2 separate regions of the Homo sapiens genome follow, and region 2 is linked to region 1. Evidence: fine-mapped expression QTL. A gene starts in region 1. The other region holds a variant in brackets. All regions are shown on one strand. Distances are from middle to middle. Region 1 holds the start of WDR75 (WD repeat domain 75). Region 2 overlaps COL5A2 (collagen type V alpha 2 chain).

The links.
Region 2: its variant is fine-mapped to the expression of WDR75 in whole blood (INTERVAL, PIP above 0.99).

What each region holds. Positions count from the first base shown.
Region 1 is chr2:189,439,330-189,443,732 of GRCh38, reverse strand. WDR75 (WD repeat domain 75) reads right to left here and starts at 2,259. Exons shown (of 21, transcript NM_032168.3): 1 at 2,155-2,259. The coding sequence starts at 2,240. It also overlaps a transcript of COL5A2 not described here. RefSeq lists enhancers at 1,814-1,863, 1,884-2,113, 2,134-2,263, 2,524-2,743, 2,764-2,923 and 1 more.
Region 2 is chr2:189,170,665-189,175,067 of GRCh38, reverse strand. All of the region lies in intron 1 of COL5A2 (collagen type V alpha 2 chain), which reads left to right. Among named protein-coding and RNA genes, the nearest start is that of COL5A2, 6.9 kb to the left of the region's middle. The variant G/AAG (reference allele first, on the strand shown) is at 2,100.

The DNA.
Region 1 (4,403 bases):
TTGCCTGGCATTCCATCCCCCAGTATTACTGGTGAGGCAAACTCTTGCCATTGCTGCAAGAACCACTACTGAAGGTAAAACTGACTATGTAACTCCCTCTTCTATGCCATCACTGTACTTTATGTACATCAGCCTACCCAGCTCTCATTTCTCCACTCACCAACATGTATCATAGAGTTTTACAGTTTTCAGGTTAACATTATTGAAGAAACACAATCAAATTACAACTGATTACCGCCGTCCCCTTAAAGAATTAAAAAACCATTCTCTTTGGTCCAAACAACAACCAACAACTGGCTGCACGTGTCCTTTCCAACCTCATTTCCCACTACCTCCCTTAATATATACCATTCTTACTAGCTAACTGTACCAGCCTGTTCAACAGAAATCACTTCTGTCTTTCTTGCTTACACTGTCCTCCCCACCTGAAATGTCTTCTGTCCATATTCCCCACTTAAAATATCATCTAGGCCTAGCACAAATGTCATTTGCTCAGCAATCTTCTCCGTCCTTCTTAGTTTGGGAAGTAATCTCTTCTTATGAGCTCCTTCCTACAGGACCACAGTAAGAAAAATCTGTTACTGAGTATTCCTTTTCCTCACTAGACTGTAAGCTCCTCGAAGGCAGGATCAATATTAAAATTATCTTAGTTTTTGTCACTGCAGCATGTTATACATAATATATAGTTGACAAGTACTTAAAAAATGAATTGTTGGGCTTAGCAAATCAAACACACAATGGACCTCATTATAATGAATAAGGTATAAGAACAGTACTGGTTACATGGATATGAGTCCGAAGCGTCACAGTGTGACAGCCTCTTAAAGCCTGTTTCTTCCTTTGATTCATAAGATCAATGTCAACAAAGCCACAGGACTCATTTTTTTTTGGCTTCTAAGGCAATTTATAAAAGCTCTTTCAGTCATGCTTGCATTACCTTCAACAACTACCTGTCGTACACTCATATGCAGAATATTGTGGGGGTGGGCCGGGCACAGTTGCTCACTGTAATCGCTGCACTTTGGGAGGTTCAGGTGGGCAGATCACTTGAGGCCAGGAGTTCCAGGGCAGCCTGGCCAACATGGCGAAACCCTCTCTCTACTAAAAATACAAAAATTAGCGGGCGTGGTGGCCCGCGCTTATAATACTTGCTACTCAGGAGGCCGAGGCACCAGAATTGCTTGAACCAGGGAGGCGGAGGTTGCAATGAGCCTAGATTGAGCCACTGCACTCCAGCCTGGGTGACAGAGTGAGATTCTGCATCAAAAAAAAAAAAAAAAAAAAAAAAAAGAATATTGTGGAGGCTACAAACTTTCATAAAATACTATCTCTACTCTTCTAAGGCAGAAAGGGTTTTTTGATTTTATTAAGTGCCACCCTACCTAAAGTTATTTGAAAACCTGACAATACAGTAATAATGATTACAGCTACATACATTGAGCCATTATGTGCCGGGCATTGTTGTCTGTAGTTTTAACATATTGAGGCATTTAATCCTCCCAATAACCACGTGAGATGAACTAAATATTGTCCCCCTTTACAGATGATGGCAACTGAGGCAAAGATTAAGAAACTTACAAAGGTTTCATAATGTAAGAAGTGGATTTTGAAGCCAGGGAGTGGTTTGGTTTCCAGCTACACTGAGAAAAGAGACCAAGTCTTAGCGTATTTTTATCTCATAAAGAATCTAACATCTGTTTTCATGTAAAGTTCCGAAAAGACTGCACTATGCTTCATGCACTATGCTTCAGGAGTGAGGAGTGGGTAGAAAAAGCGGAATAGTTTTAGGTTTTAGTCACTCCAAAACATGATTCTGTACGAAAGAGTAGGTACTGCAAAGGTAGTGGCATACACATCCACCCCTGGACCATTTTCCAGCCGCCCGAACACCTTCCAGATCCTCGACACGGAGACCGGCTCCAGGGCCTTTATCTACCTGCAGGTAAACTGTCCAGGAATCGGGGGACGCAACCCAATCTGCAGTGGTAACGGGACCTCCCAGGTACCCTGGGGATCCCCCACAGGCGCGTGCTCTACCCAAAGCCGATATCCGCCAGGCGGGCGAGTCCGAACGCGACTGACAATTCCTTCTCCCCGACCCTCGAGAAACTCACGCCCCGCCCCTCAGCCGACAAAGCGCGGTGCCCCTCATACTTAGAATCTGCAGAGAACACAGCTCTCCTAAAGTTCAACTCGCTGCCGCCACAACGAACCACGCGGATGTTCTCCTCCTCCACCATCTTTGCGCAGTAGCGGAATGGCCAATCTCTGGTCCCGCCCTGAACTTCCTTCGTTGAGCCGGGTAATAAGGCTGTTCCCAGCCCACAGAACCCACCCCCGGGCCCTTCTAGGCCTGAGACTCGGTGGTAGGACTCCGCTTCCGTGCAGGCACCTTTTGTGTGGGCAATGTCAAACTAAGACACTTGTAAGAAAAGGTGAAAGCAAAACAGAGATTTAGAGACAATCAGTTTTTATTATATACCTATACACAATTATTTAATACAGACATATTTCTCTCAGGCCTTGTCAACCTGACTCTATGGCTTTTTCCGCCAGAAGGGAAAGGTGGCGTATAGTGTACCACGTGACCTCCAGTCGTCCCACCGGAGGCGTCGCTTTCTAGTGTCTGTGGTGTCGGCGCTGCAGGATGACGCGAGCCTCTCGCGTCCCTGGTTTTCTCGGTCGCAGCGTTGAGTTATTGGGTGGAAAGGTAGCTTTCTCTTCCTTGTACAGCTTTTTGTTCCTCTCATTAGCCGTTCTTCTGTTCTTGTGAACATCGCTTAGGTTACTACAGAATCTCCACAGTCCTAGGGCCTAGCTTTCTTCCTTTGGAAATCTGGCTCCTACTCCGGGATTCTGGTGCATCTTCCGCAGCGTTCAGTGTAGCTGCTCGGGCTAATCTGACATTCGGCCAGTCCCGCCAGGTTTCAGGGCGCTGGTCTCTGGTTTCCTGAGTTTTACCTTTTCCCATTAGTGAATAGAATCTGTGGGTTAGGAACCCCTAAAATCTCAACATGTTTATTTTTGCCAGTTTATCTCCAGTTTTCCTTTGTAAACTTACACGTATCATATTCTTGGACCCTGTATATTATGTTGCCTATTTTGATTTCGCTTCTTGATTTGTGGATTTACCACAAAATTACCAAGGTCTCAAATATAGTCACATGTCACATAAGGATCTTTCAATCAATGCATATAACATGGTGATTCCGTAAGATTATAATACTGTGTTTTTACTGTACCTTTTATGTGTTTAAATACACAAATACTATTCTGTTACAATTGCCTGCAATATTGAGTACAGTAACATGTTGTTCAGATTTGTAGCCTAGGAGCAATCAGCTATAACGTACAGCCTAGGTGTGTAGTAGGCTGTACCATCTAGGTTTGTGTAGGTACACTCTGTGATATTCACACAATGATGAAATCACCTAAAATGCATTTCTTAGAACATATCCCCATCATTAAGCCACACATGATTATACCTATAAGTTTATTTATGGTGGAGAAATACAATATTCACAAAGGTCAAGACATATCCTGGGACAGCACCACTGTAAAAATCAGGGATAAATTTACTTTTTACTGAGGAGTCTAGCTTATTAAAGTGCTCAAAACTTTATTATTTGGGGAGCCAGAACTAGAAAGGGAGATATTTAATAATTTTGGTTTATCTCAAGCTGTAACCAGCTTTCTCTTTCATGACTGTGATACCCTTTGTCACAGTGGATGGAGTGTAAAATATCACTTTTGATTCTGCAGCCTTAACCTCTTTTTGTTTAGTCTCTTGATGTATGCACAATAAATCTTTTAAAGACTTTGTTGGGTACTTTGTAACCTGATACAGGCTTTTCCTTAGGGCCTGAGCCAAGAAACAAAATAAATATTTTCACTCAAATTAGTGTGACTTTAGTTGTATGTTACTGTATGGTAACTTTAGATTTTTCAGAAAAGAATCAGAAATCCTGATATGGACAAAAACTAGCTGGATTGATAAATGTATAGGAGGATTATTTTACACAGAGTTTTAATTTACTGAAGTGCCCAGAAAGATAAGTCATTTGTATTTTGATTTCTTTTTACATAATTTTTAAGGAACCAATCCCACCTACAGCTGTTTAATTAATAGTGCGTTGTCTTTATCATGTAACAAGAAGGCTGAGGTAGGCAGAATAGGGCTAGTGCAGTGGATCATTCATGCCACCAGGGACCTGTGCTTTCTCTACTTTGTTCTTTGTGTTATTGTCCTTAACCATATTGGTTTTGTCCTTATGCTCACAGTTCATGTTCCTTTCAGTTAGAAGAAATAAGGGAATAGCAAGAAAGAGCATAGCCTATATACAGAAGGAAAAGGATTTTCCAGAAACACTTATTTGGCATCTTCCATCCAGGAAATATTTACT
Region 2 (4,403 bases), 270 kb after region 1:
CTTTTAGTGGCCTAGATCTTACGGTTTCAATGGACAAAATATAGTTGTGTGACTAGATCCACTTTGGTTATTGTTCATTACTGAGTAGACTGTGAAGCCAAGAAGACTGAATGGCACATAAATATTAGGCTACATTTTCTTTGCTTCTTGTCTTTAGATAAATTTTGACACCTATAACTTCTATTCAAACTAAACTGAAGCTTTAGTTTGAAGAGTATATCTCTTTCTACATATGTACATTGGTAGATTCATAGATTTAGTGAATTTTTAATATTGACTAACACAATGTATACTTGGACCATGACTCGTAGGGTCATTGGTAAGCAAGCCACAGATCAGTGTTGATAAAAAATGGTATAAAGAATCACCTAAGATCTTGTGACTAATATAGATTCTAGACCCCTCTACTTTCCAAATATCTAGGAAGTTTGGATGGGGTCTGGGCATCTGTATGTTTTTAGAGCTCTCCAGTTGACTCTGATTTACATTGGTGAACCACTGTATTAAATCTTTGACTGACACTCTGAATCTTGTTGTGGACCTGTTGGCTTTTATGTTCCGAGGCTACACATTAAGATTTTGGTAATAACTTGCTATTCTAGTTATTCATTTTACTTATAAGGCTGCTTAGTTGAAGTTTGTAGGTAAACCATTGCAAAGTCACCATCACTTCTGGAAAAATAACTCAAGGCCCAAATACCCCTCATGGTGGATTAGGCGAATCATTCTACTATGCAGAAGACACATGCCATTTGCATGTGTTTCCAGGTGAATGCATGTTTTTCATTTTCAATATTTCCTCTCTCTTACTTTCTGCTCTTCACACTTTGAGCACTATCGCTACAGGCCTGAAATTCATTGTGTTCATCATTCTAGACAGGTACCTAATGCAGGATGTGAGGCAAAAGCAGAAAGAGGAAGCTTTGTTTTAAGAAGCTGGAAATTAGAAGATTGGAATCGTGTTAATCTATGGCCACAGAATGTAGTTTTTAAAAATCATACAGTTTTCTCTGGTTTGAAGAATGATTAATGCATCATCACCTGGCCTTACATGGCATTCTTAAAATGTATGGACATGGATCAACTGATCTTTAATCGGATTTTCTTCTCTGAGATCACAACATTGAAAAGCTTAGATTTATACATTAGAGATATAGTAAGGGTGGGGGAAAAGACTGGAAGTGTTGATTATTAATTGATCTATTGTATAAATTTGGGCAAGTTACACAAGTTTATATAAGACAAATCTTGGAATTATATAAAGATATTCCTTGATTTAATATTTTTTATTATTTATATCCATGAAACTATAATTTTCACTAAAAATGTAGCACGAGACAGTATCAACTTACTGATAAATATGAAGTCTTTGAACTTTTCTTATATCTAAAAGTCACAGCTTGAGTAGGCTTTTGGAGTCTGAATGAAATTATCAGGAAGATACTGATAATCTAGTTTTCTTAAATTTATCTCCATATAAAGTTCATATATATTTATCTAAATTTTACGTAAGATGAATGAGCTGTGATATTCAATATTTAAAAGACTATTTACTCTTGGCATTTGCATGGGAAGTACTCTATCCTATGGAAAATTTTGCTTTAAAGGTGTGACCATATTGGCAACCTTAAGGTTTTTATTTCATTTTATCAATGTTTTAAAAACTAAACCCTTCAAATAAATCAAGGTGGCTTCATCTTATACTAAAATATTCACTAAGAAACAATGTATAAGGGAAATTACAATAAAGCAAGATTATTCCTATCTAAATCTTGCCTTCTACAGAGAAGATAGAGGCTGGGTGTGTGGCTCACTCCTGTAATCTCAGCAGTTTGGGAGGCTGAGGTGGGCGGATCACCTGAGGTCAGGATTTTGAGACCAGCCTGGCCATCATGGTGAAACCCTGTCTCTACTAAAAATACAAAAAAATTTATCTGGGTATGGTGGTGGGCACTTGTAATTCAAGCTACTCGGGAGGCTGAGGCAGGAGAATCGCTTGAACCTGGGAGGGGGAGGCTGCAGTGAGCAGAGATCATGCCACTGCACTCCAGCCTAGGCAACAAAACGAGACTCCGTCTCAAAAAAAAAAAAAAAAAAAA[G/AAG]AAGAGGAAAAATGTTAACAATATTAATTAATATTAATTAATTAATCAAACTTTGTTCCTATAGCCTTCTGGTGTTATGTTCAAACTCAAAAATGTTTACATGCTTTTTTTTTTTAAGTTTAGGATTAAGAAGGAGGAAAGACAGTCTCACAGTTTTGTACCCCTTTTTACCTTTTATTTGAGATGCCCAATCAGAATTGTGAATTCAGCTTTAAGATGACAGCAAACTATATTATTGGTGGAAACACTACTTGCAACGTAAGCATCATAGCCTCGTTGTAGTCTATGTAGTATAACAAGTATAATAAAGCTTGGTCCAGCCATCATGTGAGAGAACAGCTGGGTTCTGGTCCTCGTTCTATTTAGCAGTTTTGCTACCTGCAGAGGGTCCTTAACCTCACTGGGAATTTGTGTCCTCATCTGAAATATTGAGGAAATAGTATGCACCTTTGTCATCTGATGGGATTCTTAGGAGGACCATTTAAGAAATTTACTTAAAAGTAATTTTAGAGTACTTAAATGAGACACGGAAAGTGACATTACAATCTACTTCACTGACCACAGATATAAACCCTAGTGGTGTATTTTTAAATTGCTTTCACCAAATCTTTGAATTGTTTTGAAGCACCTCCTGGACTTGTTCTTTTGTGTTTTATTTGTTCTCCATCTCCCTGAGGAACTTGTTCCATCAGTCATGCTCTCTTTTCTATAACTTCAGCCACTTCCTTTCTATCTGCTCTTTCCCTTTAGCTTGTAAACAAGTTCAGCTCTCTCCCACAGCCTGTGTCTAGCTCCCACCCAGTCTTTATTCTTAGCCCAGCTGCTTTAAAAGGAGCAGTGCAGTTTTCTGTCTCTGCCTCCTATGCCCTCACTTGGCCTCTCTTTCCACTTAAGCTGGTCTAGCATGGTGAGGATTAAAATGTGTGATATTCCAAGGGTCCCTTTTCATCTTATCTTATCAGGCCTTTCTCCTTTATTGGAGACCATTGACCACTCCAGCTTTCCTAAAATGCTACTCTCTGAAGGTTCTTCCTCCACCTCCCTGACCTTTCCCTCTCAGCTTCATCCATGGGCTCCTTCTTCTCTTTTCCTGTAGCATTTTGCTTTTCTTACAAGATTTAGTTCATTGGTTCTCTCTGGATATTCTCTTCCTAGGCCACCTAGAATTAAGGGTTTTGTTTAACAGCTGAATGCTGATAATTATAACATCTCTTCAACCCCAATCTTTCACATGAACTTTAGATAAATAAATATATTCAGCTGTCCCAAAGGCAGCCTAGAACCACATGAAATTCAGTGTATCCAAAACTTAATTTATTGGCTTCCCTTCAAGACTTGGTCATTTTGCTTATGTAGTCCCCCTTATGCCAGTTAATGGCAACATGATGCTACCCGGTCATTCAGTCAGTCATTCAATCAGCACAATTCCAATCGTTCACTAAGATCTACCATTTTACCTGCTAAATGTTTCTCAAGTGTACCTCTTCTCCATCCCTACTACAAATGCCTCAGTTTAGGCCCTCATCATCTATCCCTCAGTTACTGTGATAGCATCTAAATTCATCTCCTTGCCTCTCATGTATCTGCTTTCCAACAAACACATATATTGGTGCCTTCTGTTGCTAGTGTGATATAAAACTATCTAATTTTGTATTTACCTTCCTTAACAACTTTCATTGGGTCCTGTAACTTGTAGAAAGAATAAGGTTCAAGCTTCTTAGTGTGACATACAAGATCCTGCTGATCTAGCCCATTTCTGAGTTTTAGTCGCATCAACTGTCATTCTCAGCCTCAAAATAAGGAATTGCTTGAGGCTGCCACCCCCAACACACACAGACACACACAAACTCTCTCTCTCACTCTCTCTCTATCCCCTTTCATTCTCTACTGTCCAGATTCCACCCAGAACTGACATTCTCTCATTAGTTGAGCTAAGTGCTCCTCTGGCCATCTCACAACAGTCAGTACACCTCTGCCATGCAGGAACAATACCATACTGAGAATGCTTTCTTTCCATGAATCCGTTTTACACATTCCCACCAGATTAGGCTAAGTCCCACTTTTATAATGTCACTCTCCAGTGACATTATAATTTATTAACATTATTTATTAATTATTAATATAATTTATTAACATTAACAATTTATTCCAAGCTGCCATTGACTGTTGCATCACACTTAACACATTATACTGACCTTACTTCTGTGTGACTTTTTTTTTTACCTAAGAGTGCCAAGAGTATCCAGCTGCCTTGCAAGACTGCTCATGTTCTCCTCCACTGTATCTAAACAAATACTATGATTT